3 separate regions of the Homo sapiens genome follow, and regions 1 and 2 are each linked to region 3. The links come from fine-mapping of genetic effects on gene expression. A gene starts in region 3. Each other region holds a variant in brackets. All regions are shown on one strand. Distances are between the middles of the regions.

Region 1 (5,000 bases), 120 kb after region 3:
GGCTGGAAGGCAGTGGTGAGATCATGGCTCATTGCAGCCTTGACCTCCTGGACTCAAGTGATCCTCCCACCTCAGCCTCCTGAGTAGCTGGGACTACAGGCATGCCCCACCACACCTGGCTAATTTTTTTATTTTTTGCAGAGACGAGGTCTCACTATATTGCCCAGGCTGGTCTCAAACTCCTGGGCTCAAATGATCCTCCCGTCTCGGCCTCCCAAAGTGTTGGGATTACAGGTGTGTGCCATCGCGCCTGGCCCATTTCTGTCTTTCTTCTTCATTAAATATATATTGATCGCCTGCTCAGTGCCAGGCAGGGTGCTAAGTGCTAGAGATATGAAAATGAATACAACATTGTCCCTGATCTTACAGTGTAATGCGGACTCAGACACATAAACAGGTCACTTATCATGAATATGTAAAGATTGAGAGACAGGGGCAGAGTGTTCTGAGAGCCAAGGGGAAGAGCTCTTGGTTGGGCATGGGAGTATCATAGAAGCTTCCTGGGAGAGGAGATGTTTGAATTGAGTTAGCCAAGTGAAGGATAGTGGGAAAAACATCCCAGACAGAGGGAAGGTGTGAGCAAAGACACGAGGGTGGGAAACGGTTTGGCCCGCTGCAGACATTTGGTGTTGCTGGAGAAAAAATGGTAGGGATGGGGGCGGAGGGCAATTATTGATACTTGAGGCTGGAGAGGTAGGTTGGGGCCAGATCTGGGAGGAACTTATGTGCCTTCTGAAGGAGGTCAGAGCTTTGATTCTCTAGGCTGTAGGAGGCCTTTGAAAATTTGAAAACAGAAAAGTGAGCTGATCAGACTGTCCTCTGGGGAAGATTGATCAGAGAAGCCTCCTAATTCTGCATGTTGCCCAGTGTTACACAGGAATAAATGTATTCATTTACACTCATTCTACAAAGAGGTACAGAGTTCCTGCAATGTGCTGGGCACCATGCCAGGCCTAAGGTCCAGAGTTGTGAAGAGAGCTGGACTGAAACAGCCCCGAGACTCAGGCAGGAAAAGACAGACTTGACTACATCACGTAACTGAGTCTCACGCGGAGAGGGCACATACCCAGGGCTGTGGCGCTAAAGCAGGCTCAGGCTCGGGGAAGGCCTCAGAGGGAGTGGCATTCACACCAAGTCTGAAGGACCAGGAGGAGCCAGCCTGCCTTGGGTGGGAAATTTTCATAATTCACATGCAATTAGTCAGCCTAGAGCCCCAGTGAATCACAGGTGCCATGGCAGGTTGGCACCCTCACTTCAGCAGTAGCTGCCAATGCTAAGCTGGGTCAGCAGGTGAGTGTGGAAGCAGGGGCAATGTGGTTTTGGCAGGAACACCCCCTGGTGCTCTAGGAGTGTGGGAACTGAGAGGAGAGGAGGAGCCTTTTCAATCAGTCAGACTCACTGGGGAAAAAACCCAAACAACCCAGGAGTAGCAATAGTCATCTCGGAGTGAAGGGGAGGGATTTGGTGTGCAGGGCATATGCACCAGGTGAATTGTGACCCTAGAGTTTTGAAACCCCACACCTGAATGGGAGGGAATTCATGGCTGTTCTGTTTGACACAGTTACCTTCCAAGTGAGTTTATATTCCACTAGGGTTGGGGGGAAGTCATTACTTTTTACATACTCCCACGTGACAAGCATGGGTGCCTTCCCTCTCTGCCTCTCCCCCCGAAGTTTGAAGACAAAATCATAGACATCTGCCTGAAGCTGCTAGACAAGAGCCTGCACTTCCAGACTGACCCAGCCACAGACTGTGCTCTGCGGGGAAGCCCCGTCTACGTCAGCAGAGTGGTGTGTGCCATGGTGAGGTCCCTGGCGTGCCCGGGGAGGGAGGAAGCTGTGCAGCGGGAGCCCTGCCCACTCACAGTTGCCCCCTGCAGTGGGTGAAAGAGGGACCCTCTGGCAAAGCCATCTTGGATGAGACTGAC[G/A]CCAGAATGTGGGTGACAAGTTTTCTCAGCCGAGCTCTGAAATAGCTGGGTGTGGGTCATCACCTCTATTAATTCCAAATTGCATGTTTTGAGAAAGGGTGAGTGTAGCTCCAGTTTGGGAAATGGTCTTGTTGTTTCTAAATTTCCTCTTTTCTGAAGTGTTTTTTAAAGCTCTCAGAGGTAAGCTCCAGCTTTGCAGGGGATGGGAGGACATGGGTAAGGGGTAGATAGGAACATAATAATAAACTAATTCACAGTGGAGCAGAAGTCAGAAGAGTCAACCCCCATCCTTAGCCCTCCCCAGCAGGTCTGGAAGTCCACAGTAAAATGCTGTCAAAAGTCTCTCCTCTGTTTCTCAGGCCCATGGGTCTTCCAAGGCAGCCCACACATGGCATGTTGAGGAAATGGATGTTTCTAACACTTCTCTATATGGCTTCTCTTCAGATCAACAGCAATGATGATAATGGGGTGCTCAATGGAAACTGGAGTGAGAATTACACAGACGGCGCCAACCCTGCGGAGTGGACGGGCAGCGTGGCCATCCTGAAGCAGTGGAACGCCACAGGCTGCCAGCCCGTGCGCTACGGGCAATGCTGGGTCTTTGCTGCCGTCATGTGCACAGGTAGGAGGTAGAAAGGACCCCACAAAAAGGTCAGAAGTATAGCCGCTCATGTATGAGCCTTCTGAACCATTCCCATCCCAGTCCCACACAGTTCCCACCAAGGGACATTTGGAAGGAAGCCCTTTTCCTCTCTGAAATGTCTCGGCCGGGCACGGTGGCTCACACCTGTAATCCCAGCACTTTGGGAGCCCGAGGTGGGTGGATCCCAAGGTCAGGAGTTCAAGACCAGCCTGGCCAAGATGGTGAAACCCCGTCTCTACTAAAAATACAAAAATTAGCAGGGCACGGTGGCAGGCACCTGTAATCCCAGCTACTCGGGAGGCTGAGGCAGGAGAATTGCTTGAACCCGGGGGGGCAGAGGTTGCAATGAGCCAAGATCACGCCACTGCACTCCAGTCTGGGTGACAAGAGTGAGACTCCATCTCAAAAAATAAATAAAAAAATAAAGTGTCTCATCACGGACCTCAGACTGCACATGTCTGGGCTTATGTCAGACCATGGTTCCGAAGTGACAGTCACACGTCCCAGGACGCCTGACACCCTTGCTTCGTCTAAGCTTAGGCAACTTACCAGCATATTCCTAAGAGCTTGGCTGGGAACTGTCTAGGTTCAAGACAGAAATGAGATGAGAGGCTGAGTAATTAGGAAACTACAAACTGATTAGTGTCCTTTCTGAGCACAGAGAATGGGCTCAATGAAGATGTGTACATGGAAGGGAAACGTGAGTCAGGGCTGTGGTGTGGGCCATGGGGCCAGAGCAAGATGGCAACCCAAGGGAAATGACCTTGAATTTGGAGTTGTTGAGGGCCTGATAGCCTGACTCTGGCCAGAGGGTTAGGGGAAGGAAGAAAATGTGAGGTCAGCTTTTCAGATAAGGAATGGATACTACATTAGTAGAGGAAAAACTAAAAAATACATATGTGGAAAAGATGGCAAATGGAAGTTGGTTTGTGGGTGACAAGAGGAGGAGATGAGGAGGAAATCATGAGGGGAGTGATACTTGGAAATGAGTCACACATGGAGGTGAAAGGAGGAGGCCTTCTGCCTCACCCAGGGCCAAGCACTTGCTCCGGGTCCTCACCCTCACCCTGCCCCACACCCAGGCCTGCTCTCGGCCTCTTGGCTTGCGCATTCTGATTTGGGTGGCGATCAGAAGGTTATTTATTGTGTTAAGCTGGGGAGAGAAGCCAAGCAAGGTTTTCGCTCACAGGATTCTTTAGGGGAATCCAAGAATACCAGATCTGCCCATAGCTTGGTGTTTATTGGGGGCTCAGGCCTTCTGGGTAGAATTTTGTGTGTGACAAAGTTTGTTGCATTTCGTGTGCATATATGTGCCAGGCCCATCTCTGGGCTGTTGGAAGAATGCAACTTCCCTGAAGGAAGCTCAGAGAGCCCCAGGCATCTGTCCAAGGGCACGAGGAGGTGTTGCCACCGAGAGAGAGTGACTTTGCACAGTTGATGAGAATGATCAGTAAGCCCCAAGATTACTCCTCTGCAGCTGCAGAGCCAGCTCTTGAGTTGGATGAGTTGAGTTGGATGAGTTGAGTGCCCAGGTATAAGAAACAAGGAATTCCACAGCTTTGAGACTCCATGTCATGAATATTTGGGTGAAGTGAGAGGACTGAGTCCTTCAGGAAGCAAGCACAAGACTGACAGGTAGAGACTAGATCTTGTATAAGATAGAGAGAGAACCTTCCAGTGTGTGGAAAAGCCTAGCATCTAATGGGCCAGGTATGTGTGTGTAGAAGGAGTGAGCCAGGTTTGGGTGTGGTTGTCTGGAACTGCGTGATGAGAGAAGTGGAGCCAGTGAATGGAGATTATGCAATGACAGTAGACCAATTAACATGTTTGTGAGAATCATGGCCCTTTAGTGGCCTGGAAAACAAAGGGTTGGTCAAAGTAGGTCAAACGTGGCCCAGTCCCCTGTAGCTCAATCAGCACTAACCTTCCCCCAAAGAGCTACCATGTTATAAATTAAGAAATACAGCAGTTTGAAAAACTCATCCCTTCACAGCAATACTTACTGAGTCCTTATTCTACACCAGGCACTCACTGTGTTCCAAGAGCTCTTGGATACAAGATGGGTAAGACCCAGCTTCTGTCTTCAACCAAAGTTAAAATTAAAGATTTAGTCAAACTCCTTAACCTCAAACAGTTCCCAAAGCATGTTTTTTGAAAATATATATGTTATTATTTCATAGCCATAGTAACTAATGTTTATTGGGGACTTCCTTTGTGCCAGGCACTGTGCTAAAACCCTGACAGCCTAGAGTAGTGGAGAAGCTTGTGGACTCTGGAGGCAAGATGCGTGAGGTTGCATACCAGCACTACCATTAATTGGCTGAGTAACCTTGGGCAAGTCATTTAACTTGTGCCTCAGTTTCCTCAGATGTACAATGGGGAAAGTAGTGGTACCTACCTCATAGGATTATTGAAGGGATTGAGTGACTT
Region 2 (5,000 bases), 80 kb before region 3:
ATCAGGAGTTCGAGACCAGCCTTGCCAACATGATGAAACCTCATCTCTACTAAAAATACAAAAATTAGCCTGGAATGATGACGGGTGCCTGTAGTCCCAGCTACTCTGGAGGCTGAGGCACGAGAAGCCGAGATTGTATCACTGCACTCCAGCTTAGGTGACAGAATGAGACTCCGCCTCAAAAAAAAAAAAAGTCCCTATTTATTAGCTTTTATATTTAGCACTTTTTTTTTATCTTAAGAATAAGAAATGTTAGAGCTAAAAAGGAAGTGAGGGGTTATTGGATTTAGTCTCTTCTTAACGTCTTTTGGCTAGTTAATGATAGAGGTGAGACTAGAACCTAGGTCTCCTGATCCCAGCTGTGCTTTTTCTTCCTGTAAAACTGCTTAATACAGATTATTTGATTCTGAAGAGCTGTAGTGAAGAACAATGTGAATAACCTAAAATTCTGTAGTAGAGTATTTTTCTAATTGTATTATGTTTAAATACTGCTAATGACCTGTGCCAACAAAATATCAGGTCTCTTTGATTGTTTTAATATAGTTATTTTGGAGTACTTTTTTTTTTTTTTTTTTTTTTTTTGAGACGGAGTCTCACTTTTTCGCCCAAGCTGGACTGCAGTGGCGCTATCCCGGCTCACTGCAAGCTCCGCCTCTTGGGTTCATGCCATTCTCCTGCGTCAGCCTCCCGAGTAGCTGGGATTACAGGCGCCCACCACCACGTCCGGCTAATTTTTTGTATTTTTAGTAGAGACGGGGTTTCACCGTGTTAGCCAGGATGGTCTCGATCTCCTGACCTCGTGATCCGCCCGCCTCGGCCTCCCAAAGTGCTGGGATTACAGGCGTGAGCCACCGCGCCCGGCCTGGAGTACTTTTAAATTAAATGCAAAAGAAGCTTCTAAAACAGTGAGATATTCTATTATTTTAATAGTATTCTTCATGAATTCTTGTTTACATTGTTAATTGGCAGAGTCAGCTTTTTTTGCCGTAGTAAAACTTATTATTTTATTAACATTAATATCCAGATTATTGAAAATGCTAGTGATTTCGTGTTTATTTCATGATTTTAGTTCTTGGGCAAACAACAAAAAGTAATGAAGACAGTGGTTGGAAAATAGTATTTATGAGGAGAAGTTAAATAAAAATAATTTTAACTACAAATTAGAACATGAAGGGAGAATAATAGCTTTTTGTCTTTTTTTTTGTTTGTTTTTGAGCCAGGGTCTCACTCTGTCGCCCAGGCTGGAGTGCAGTGGCACCATCAATGTTCACTGCAGCCTTGACCTCCCGGGCTCAGGTGATCCTCCCACTTCAGCCCCCCGCCCCGAGAAGCCGGGACTACAGGCGTGTACCAGCATGCTTGGCTGATTTTTTGTAGAGACAGGGTTTTGCCATGTTGCCCAGGCTGATCTCGAACTCTTGGATTCAGGCAATCCACCCACCTTGGCCTCCCAGAGTGCCAGGATTACAGGTATGAGCCACCGTGCTCAGCCGAGAACAATAGTTTTTAACTTAGAAAATTGTATAAAATAAATCATTCAGAAGAGCGTTGCAAAAAGAACAGAAAAATATTATTTTGTACTTAAAAATATAGTTGTTTAGTTGCTAAATGTTGAGAGACTAATTTTATTTTTATTTTTTTGGAACAGAGTCTTGCTCTGTCGCCCAGGCTGGAGTGCAGTGACATGATCTCGGCTCACTGCAACCTCCGCCTCCCAGGTTCAAGTGATTCTTGTGCCTCAGCCTCCTGAGTAGCTGGAATTATAGGCACATGTCACCATGCCTGGCTAATTTTTGTATTTTTAGTAGAGACAGGGTTTTGCCATGTTGGCCAGGCTGGTCTCGAAGTCCTGGCCTCAAGTAATCCACCTGCCTTGGCCTCTCAAAGTGCCGGGATTACAGGTATGAGCCACTGGGCCTGGCCAAATTTAAATGATAGTAATCTAAAAAGTAATGGTTCTTCACTTTTACACTGTTGGTGGGACTGTAAACTAGTTCAACCATTGTGGAAGTCACTGTGGCGATTCCTCAGGGATCTAGAACTAGAAATACCATTTGACCCAGCCATCCCATTACTGGGTATATACCCAAAGGACTATAAATCATGCTGCTATAAAAACACATGCAGACGTATGTTTATTGCGGCACTATTCACAATAGCAAAGACTTGGAACCATCCCAAATGTCCAACAATGATAGACTGGATTAAGAAAATGTGGCACATATACACCATGGAATACTATGCAGCCATAAAAAATGATGAGTTCGTGTCCTTTGTAGGGACATGGATGAAATTGGAAATCATCATTCTCAGTAAACTATCGCAAGGACAAAAAACCAAACACCGCATGTTCTCACTCATAGATGGGAATAGAACAATGAGAACACATGGACACAGGAAGGGGAACATCACACTCTGGGGACTGTTGTGGGGTGGGGGGACGGGGGAGGGATAACATTGAGAGATATACCTAATGCTAAATGACGAGTTGATGGGTGCAGCACACCAGCATGGCACATGTATACGTGTGTGACTAACCTGCACATTGTGCACATGTACCCTAAAACTTAAAGTATAATAATTAAAAAAAAAAAGAAAAAAAGTAATGGTTCTTCAGTCTGAAAAGACAGAATGAAAGGTGTGAATTGGGTGAGTTTTGCATTTGTTCATCTACTATTAGAAGAGCACTTTTTTGTTGTTAATAGATTTATTGATTTTAAAAAAAGATACATGCTTGGCCAGGCATGGTGGCGTGCACGCGTAATTCCAGTTACTTAGGAGGCTGAGGCTTGAGAATCACTTGAACTCGGGAGGCGGAGGTTGTAGTAAGCTGAGATTGCACCACTGCACTTTAGCCTGCGCAACAGGGCGAGACCCTGTCTC[A/C]AATAAATAAGTAAATAAATAATGCATGCTTAATTTTGAAAAACATTCAAACAATACAAAGTAGAGATTCTGAGTGGGGAGGGTGTGGGGAGAGAGGGAGTTGGAAGGAAAAGAGAGAGTGAGTACAGAGAGGGAGAGAGAGAATTACTTTAAATGTCTCCATTTATAGATAACTTGTCACTGTTAACAGTTTGGAGACCTCTTCAAGTATCTGTCTATGGAGAGCTCCTGTTAAACCTGTAAAAAAGCAAGATGGTACTTGGAAGCCCAATCTTGTTCAACACAGAACAAATATTTGGTGGGTTGATGATGTGAAAAACTGTAAGGAGTTCAGTAAGTCTTTAAATCCATAAGTAATAGTCTGTAATAGTTAATAATGATCAGGGGATCTAGATGTGTTTTAGGCTCTAGCTATAACCTTTATTTGCTTACTTGATAGAATGCCATCTTAATTGGCTATTAATATCAGAGGCAGACTTTTGGGGTAGACTTCATGCATGATATCGCCGGATATATAAATTCTTACATTTTTAACTAGATGGCTTTTAATAAATTCTTAGGGGTAACCAGTTCTTTTAAGAACAAAGAAGAAAAATGGGTTTAAAACTATAACAGAAAGTTAGGAGAGACCTTCTTAACATTTAGAGTTTTAAATATTGCTTTGGAGTTATTCTCTAAAGTCCTTAAAGGACACATACTCCCACTCAGGTGGTTTCAAAATTAGTATTGAGTTTCCTTTTGTTTCCTCATTCATATCCTTCATTATTGTTTGGTATGCTGACCTACAACATGATAGCCCATGATTATCTGGAAAAACAAGAAGGGATTTGATAATTTAAAGAATGTAGGATTGCTAAATGTTAGAGAAATAATGGAATATGTGGAAAATTCCGTAAGTTTAAAAGGATAAAATATACCAGCAAATGTATTTTTAAGGATTTGGCAATAGTTTGAGTAGATGTGTGGTGTTTTCCAGATGAGGGAACAAAAGCATAGAAATGGGAAACCTTTGGAGGACATTGAATAGAAGCTTTATGAACGTGAATAATTAAAGAAAAACTGGAGATATAGGCTGCTACTAGTTAGTTGAATGCTGACTATAGAGTTGGGAATTTGTCTTCTAGTGAAAACCTTGAAGTTTTTTGACCAGGAGCTAACAAAGCCATGTTTTCTAGGAAGGCTGCAGAAAGTGTGCAGAAAGAATGGGGGTTAGGGAGAGTGGGAGACTTTAGGCAGAGGAAGTGATTGATAGGCTATGGTAATAATCCAGGAATGAGGCATTGGAGACCTGAGGAGAGTAGTGGCAGTGCTGTCCCTAGGGCCTGTAAAAGTCTGAATTTTCCATTAGGTTATAGTAATGCAGTTAGATAAATGGTGCTAAAATTACTTTCCATAAGTTTTATGTAATACTGTGCAAAGGAAACCTTGTTACAGGGATATATTTTCAGCGATTAATGCTTGCATATTGCATTTGCGTAATATAGTATGTCACATAGAAAGGTCTGCTTAAAGATTTCATGCACATTTTCAGAAGTCTGGAATATATGAGGCTTTGCAAGGTGTTTTTTAAGTTTCTGTATCTCTTCTAAGTTCTTTATTAGAACAACTTGCTTTATAAGGGGCTACCACAGAATGAATGCTTATCTACCTGACCCATTTCTCTTTTCTGTAACTATGGTGGATGTCTGTCAGTTAGATGTAATGTTGAGATTCTTCATCCATACTGTTTACAGGTTTGTTTTTGTTTTGTTTTGTTTTGTTTTTTTGAGGCACGGTCTCGCTCTGTCATCCAGGCTGTAGTGCGGTGGCACCATCTTGGCTTACTGCAACCTCTGCCTCCCAGGTTCAAGCAGTTCTCCTGCCTCAGCCTCCTGAGTAGCTGGGATTACAGGCACCTGCCACTACACCCAGCTAATTTTTGTATTTTTAGTGGAGACAGGGTTTCATTATTTTGGCCAGGCTGGTCTCGAACTTCTGACCTCAAGTGATCCATCCGCCTTCGTCTCCCAAAGTGTTGGGATTACAGGCATGAGCCATGGTACCTGGCCCCTCTTTACAGTTTCTTTAGCTGAGCATATGTACTTTAATCCTTTATTTCTAAAGACCATTTCTTTTTC
Region 3 (5,352 bases):
AAATTGATTAGGAATCCAATTAATGTAGATTTTAATGACACAATGCTAATCACATCTTCAAGTTAGTAACTTAAGAGGTTGCACAACACGGTGCTTAAGAACCTGGTCTCTTGCCGGGCGCAGTGGCTCACGCCTGTAATCCCAGCACTTTGGGAGGCCGAGGTGGGCGGATCACGAGGTCAGGAGATCGAGACCATCCTGGCTAACACGGTGAAACCCCATCTTTACTAAAAAAACTACAAAAAAATTAGCCGGGTGTGGCGGCAGGCGCCTGTAGTCCCAGCTGCTCGGGAGGCTGAGGCAGGAGAATGGCGTGAACCCAGGAGGTGGAGCTTGCAGTGAGCCGAGATTGCACCACTGCACTCCAGCCTGGGCGACAGAGCGAGACTCCATCTCGGAAAAAAAAAAAAAAAAAAAGAACCTGGTCTCTGGAGCCCAACTGCCTGGGTTTGAATCCCTGAGTTGCCTCTTACTTGCTTGAAAGCTTAGGCAAGTTACTATACCTGTCTGTGCCTGTTTTCATACCTATAAACTGAAGAAAATAATTGTGAGGATTAAATAAGTTAATACATGTGTAAAGCACATATCCCAACCACATAGCTAGTGCTCAATACACATAAGCAATTTTATATTATTAACAAGACAGCTCTACCAGTTATCAAGTGATACTACTATTAAAATTGGCATTTGAGCGTTTCTTGTTGGCAGAGTTTTCGAAAAGTTCAATATCTAATTATTCTGAAACAGCAAATAATAACTCGAAGTTACTGATACCATTCTATATAACACAGTTATAGGAACAGGCTGAGAAATCCTGCATTAGAATAATGGTCATTTGAACTTATTGATTTGGTAGTTTTGTTTACTTTTAATTTATAAAAATATTTGATTTTATAGTTGTTTAAGAGTATTATGCTTGAGTTTATACCTAGCTTATGTATATACATATTCAATATAATAAAATAATTTTCATTAACACTTGGCACTCATGACAACTTTTCCCTTTACTCAAATGTAAAAGACACTGCTCTGCAGAAATTATGTAATATTTGCCATCTTTGTCTTCTTTTCTTCCATCAATACCTAAACACCTGCTATGTGGCAGAAACTGTGCTAGGTGCTCTGGGTAGATGAATGAAGAAGACCACTGGTCTTCGCTCCCAGGGGCAATCTATGCGGGAGAAAGGCTAAAAACAGGTAACAACAATACATTATGAATTGTGACAAATCCTACAAGGGAAATAAACAAGTTGATGGAGAATAATGGCATCAGGGGAGGATGCTTAAAGATGTGCTCAGAGAAAGTTTTTCTGACAAAGTGACTTTAAAGCTGAGACCTTGAGGATGAAATGGTAGAAAATACATGATTGAGAATTTTTCATAAGAAAGAAAGGAAGGGAAAAGATGAATTACTTGTGGTTGTCTCCCCCACCCCCTCCCTAGCTATCTTTCCTGTACTGTGTTATCTCTTCTTATTTTGGACCATCAGGCACCCACATACTTCCTAAATACTGTCCTCCTATATGCCTGGCATTGTACTAAGATCTATGGAGAAAAGTGAAACATCGAATTAGTCTTCAAAGACCTACAGGTGAAAGATAACAATTCAAACTCCACCACACAAATCTTCACCTGTTTTTTTCAAAAATTCACCTAAACTCCCAAACTCCAAATACATGTTCATAAATAATAACGAAAGGAAACTGTTTGATTTATAGGTTTTATAGACTAAGAATGTACTTTTTCTGCTCTTCCACAGTCTCCTAAGAATCGGCATGTCTTGGTGATCAGACGGACCTAGATTTCAGTCTTGCCACTACTAGGACTGGCCAGCATAAAGTTTTCTGAGCTTCAGTTTGCTCATTTGTTAACTGGTAGAAACAATACCTAAGTGGACTAAATTATTGAGAGCATTAGATAACATTACTGGAAGCAGAAGCAGGTAAAAGTAGTTCAAATACTGAAGCCAGACAGACCTGGCTTCAAAACTAAGCTCTGTTAATTACTAGCTATGACCCCGATAGTTATTTAACTATTCTAAACCTAGCTTAATCTGTAAAATGGATAAGGTGGTTGTGAGGATTAAATAAGATAATGCATACGGAACATCATACATTCCTGGTTACACAAAGGCCCCCTACCAAGTGCTTTACCTAGTGCAGAAATTTTCTGGTAAAGGAGTAATGAGGGAAACACCACACGCTCTCGATTTCATTTATTTCCTTCAACAAACTTTACTGAGCGCTTACCATGTGTTTGGGAGCTGTGTATTTGGCCCAGTACTTCAAAACTCAAACAATGCACGTGTGAAAATAAATAGGAGAAAGTGCCTCCCACACTTCTATATCATTCCCCAGCAACTGTCAGACACCTGGACCTCAGGCCCTTTCCTCGCCCCGCCACAGGTGGGGCTCTTCGAGGTCTGCCCTCCGTTTTCTAGCCTAGGCCCGGCCTCTCTAGGTGTCGCATCAGCCTTGACCCTAAGGGGCTGCCCTCCAGTCACCTGTCCAGGGATACGCCCCCAGCCCTGGAAGCCCCGCTCGCTAGGTCCCTCAGCCTACTCCCCCAGGCGCTGGCTCAGGTCCCCCCTCCTGCGCTCCCTGGTTCCCGCGCTCTGCGCCGGACAGTACCTGCAGGCCACTCCGCTTGTTCCAGGTGAAAATGGACCCAGGGTACCCGCTCAGAGCCAAGAGCAGTTCGTGGATCATTCCCACGGCGGACCTCGAGTCCCTGGTTATGTCACCCCCTCCTCCAGCGCACCTCCAGGCGACCACGAGGGGAGTGCTTCCCCTTCCACACGCGCACCGGCCCCTGGGTCGGGCGGTTTGTGCCGAATCAACCCACCGAGACAATCGCTGCGGCGGAGCGGACGGGAAGCTGGGAAGGGGTCGCGGGGGAGTCCCGGAAGTTCGGCAGCTCAACGGGGTCCACCAGCTACTCCCGCCCGGGCTCTGCGGAGACTGAGTCGCGGTCGCTGCCCTCGCGCATGCGCCCTCGGTGCCCCGAGCCGCCCGCTCGGACTTCCGGTTTGGGAGCTGTACTTGGGAGGCTGGAGAGCCGGGGCCGGGGCCGGGGCCGGGGCCGGGGTCAGGGTCGGACCCCGAGTGGGTGAGGCTGGCCCGGAGGCAAGGATGCGAGGGGGTTGAGGGGCAGCTCGAGAGGGAGACGCTCCCAGGGGTGGGCTGGAGGGCGCCCTCAGGGCGCCTTAGCCGGGTCAGAGGCCTCTGGAGGGACCGCACGACGGCTCCGGGTTACCCGGCCGGAGGGAGCGGAGACAAAAGAGGCCAGAATCCCGCAGCCGCTGCTCCTTGGGCTGAGAGCTCTGCGTCCGCGAACCGGCAGCACCTGGAGCCTCTGGCCGACACCCGAGCCCGTCCTCAGGAAGCCCGTTACTACTGCTCCTCGGATTCCGTCTCTCCTGCCCAATGTGACTCTCCCCAAGCCCCCATGGTCCTCGCTTTGGAGCCAAAACCAGCTTCTCTCCTTGCGCGAGGTTTTCCGACAGGTAGCTCCCTAATCCTTGCTGAGCGGCTACTACTACGCGGGGAAAACAAAGACCCGAGATTCTGGACGTGATTTTTGCCTGGGGTGGGCTTTGGGAGTTGTGCAGCCCGAGGGGGCGGGGCGGACGCAGAAGGCCTCGGGAAGGACTGCGGAGATACTGGGGGAGATCAGCTGCGACCAGCTGGACAGAGGCTTTTTGTTGCCTTCAAGCAGGATGGTGACTTGTCTTTAGATCCTCTCGAACTCCAGCTCTCCTATATGGTTCGGACTCACTGTGCAACATTGGCCAGGGAAGTTAAATGGGATCGGATTTGGAGGAGGTGGGAGAGGGGCAGACAGTACTTTTATTCTCTGCTGCTTCCTGGGGCTGCCCTGGAAGTCAACCAGAAAAGCAGTTTTTGCAAAGTCTATTTACTGAAGATTGTGCTACCTTAGAAGGCCACTCGGAGCACATGGAAAGGCAGGCCAGCTCTGGCAAGACTTTAGACATATGAATGTATTCCTTCTGATAGTGCCATCTTTCTCTGCCCTAGGAAGAAACACCTCTTACAGTCATCTGCAGGGGATTCTCCAAGGACATGGGAAGATAGATGTAAGCCCTGGAACCCAGACTCCTAAGCGAAGGGAAGCTGCATTCTGCTATTAATGATGGCCAAATCAGCTCTAAGAGAGAATGGCACTAACTCTGAGACCTTCCGACAGCGTTTCAGGAGATTCCATTACCAGGAGGTGGCTGGGCCGCGGGAGGCTTTCAGCCAACTCTGGGAACTTTGCTGTCGGTGGCTAAGGCCGGAGGTGCGCACCAAGGAGCAGATTGTAGAACTGTTGGTGCTAGAGCAGTTCCTGACCGTCTTACCTGGGGAGATCCAGAATTGGGTACAGGAACAATGTCCAGAAAATGGAGAGGAGGCAGTGACTCTCGTGGAAGATTTAGAAAGAGAGCCTGGAAGACCTAGATCTTCGGTGAGAAGGGAGGGGGAATTCAAATTCAAAAGTGTGATACTGGGTGGAGGGCTAAATTAAGATATAGACAGGCTTAAAGAGGGACACAGTCTCCCTTGGTGAGGCTTATACTTCTGGTCTGGTATAGGTAACTTTTTCAGATAGTGCTTGTCTGGAGATGCTTCCTGGGTGTACCTTCACCTACCCTGTCATAATGAGTTTTTCCTATAGTTTCTTAATAGGGAAGAAAGGGGATTTTTTTTTTTCAGCCTGAAGGTGGGTTTACTATTTTGATCGTTTCCTTCTGGAGTTTCAACTGCTTTAAGCTAATGGCAATGGAATAAGACCCTTGTTCGCGTTAACCTCCCTCACCCCTACAACCCTGGCCATGGCTCTGAAAGATGATCTCTTTTGGGGTATTAAATACTCTCCTCTGGGAATGCCCCTCATTATGATCTTGCAGTGACAATTAACGGGGGTTGTTTCTAGGTCACAGTCTCTGTGAAGGGGCAGGAAGTGCGCTTGGAGAAGATGACACCCCCGAAATCATCACAAGAGTTATTAAGTGTTCGGCAGGAGTCAGTGGAACCCCAGCCCAGGGGTGTACCCAAGAAAGAGAGGGCAAGAAGCCCAGACCTGGGACCACAGGAGCAGATGAACCCAAAGGAGAAGCTCAAACCTTTTCAAAGGAGCGGTGAGGAGTAGATTCATATGGGAAGATAGACTGCCATTCCAAGTTGGGAAGTAGGGTTGGGAATAGTGAGTGGGAAAGGGATTTCAGGAGTAAGTGGAAATTGCAGAATATGTGGTTGTTGACATGTAGTTTAGCCTCTGGTATTCATATTACCTCTTGATAAGTCCACAAGAGAATGGCTCCCTAGTTTTTATCGGAACTTGGAATTATTT

The links. PIP is the estimated chance that this variant, and not a neighbour inherited with it, causes the effect.
Region 1: its variant is the best candidate, but not a certain one, in a credible set for the expression of TUBGCP4 in whole blood (TOPMed, PIP 0.57).
Region 2: its variant is the best candidate, but not a certain one, in a credible set for the expression of TUBGCP4 in whole blood (INTERVAL, PIP 0.72).

The regions. Positions count from the first base shown.
Region 1 is chr15:43,250,308-43,255,307 of GRCh38, reverse strand. It overlaps TGM5 (transglutaminase 5), which reads left to right. Exons shown (of 13, transcript NM_201631.4): 5 at 1,674-1,802; 6 at 2,372-2,549. Among named protein-coding and RNA genes, the nearest start is that of TGM5, 14 kb to the left of the region's middle. The variant G/A (reference allele first, on the strand shown) is at 1,928.
Region 2 is chr15:43,448,776-43,453,775 of GRCh38, reverse strand. The region is part of intron 12 of TP53BP1 (tumor protein p53 binding protein 1); the gene reads left to right. Among named protein-coding and RNA genes, the nearest start is that of TP53BP1, 42 kb to the left of the region's middle. The variant A/C (reference allele first, on the strand shown) is at 2,884.
Region 3 is chr15:43,368,711-43,374,062 of GRCh38, reverse strand. TUBGCP4 (tubulin gamma complex component 4) reads right to left here and starts at 2,962. Exons shown (of 18, transcript NM_014444.5): 1 at 2,631-2,962. The coding sequence starts at 2,708. It overlaps ZSCAN29 (zinc finger and SCAN domain containing 29), which reads left to right and starts at 3,020. Exons shown (of 6, transcript NM_001372080.1): 1 at 3,020-3,505; 2 at 4,038-4,467; 3 at 4,936-5,140. The coding sequence starts at 4,150. RefSeq lists an enhancer at 2,832-2,951 and a silencer at 3,052-3,321.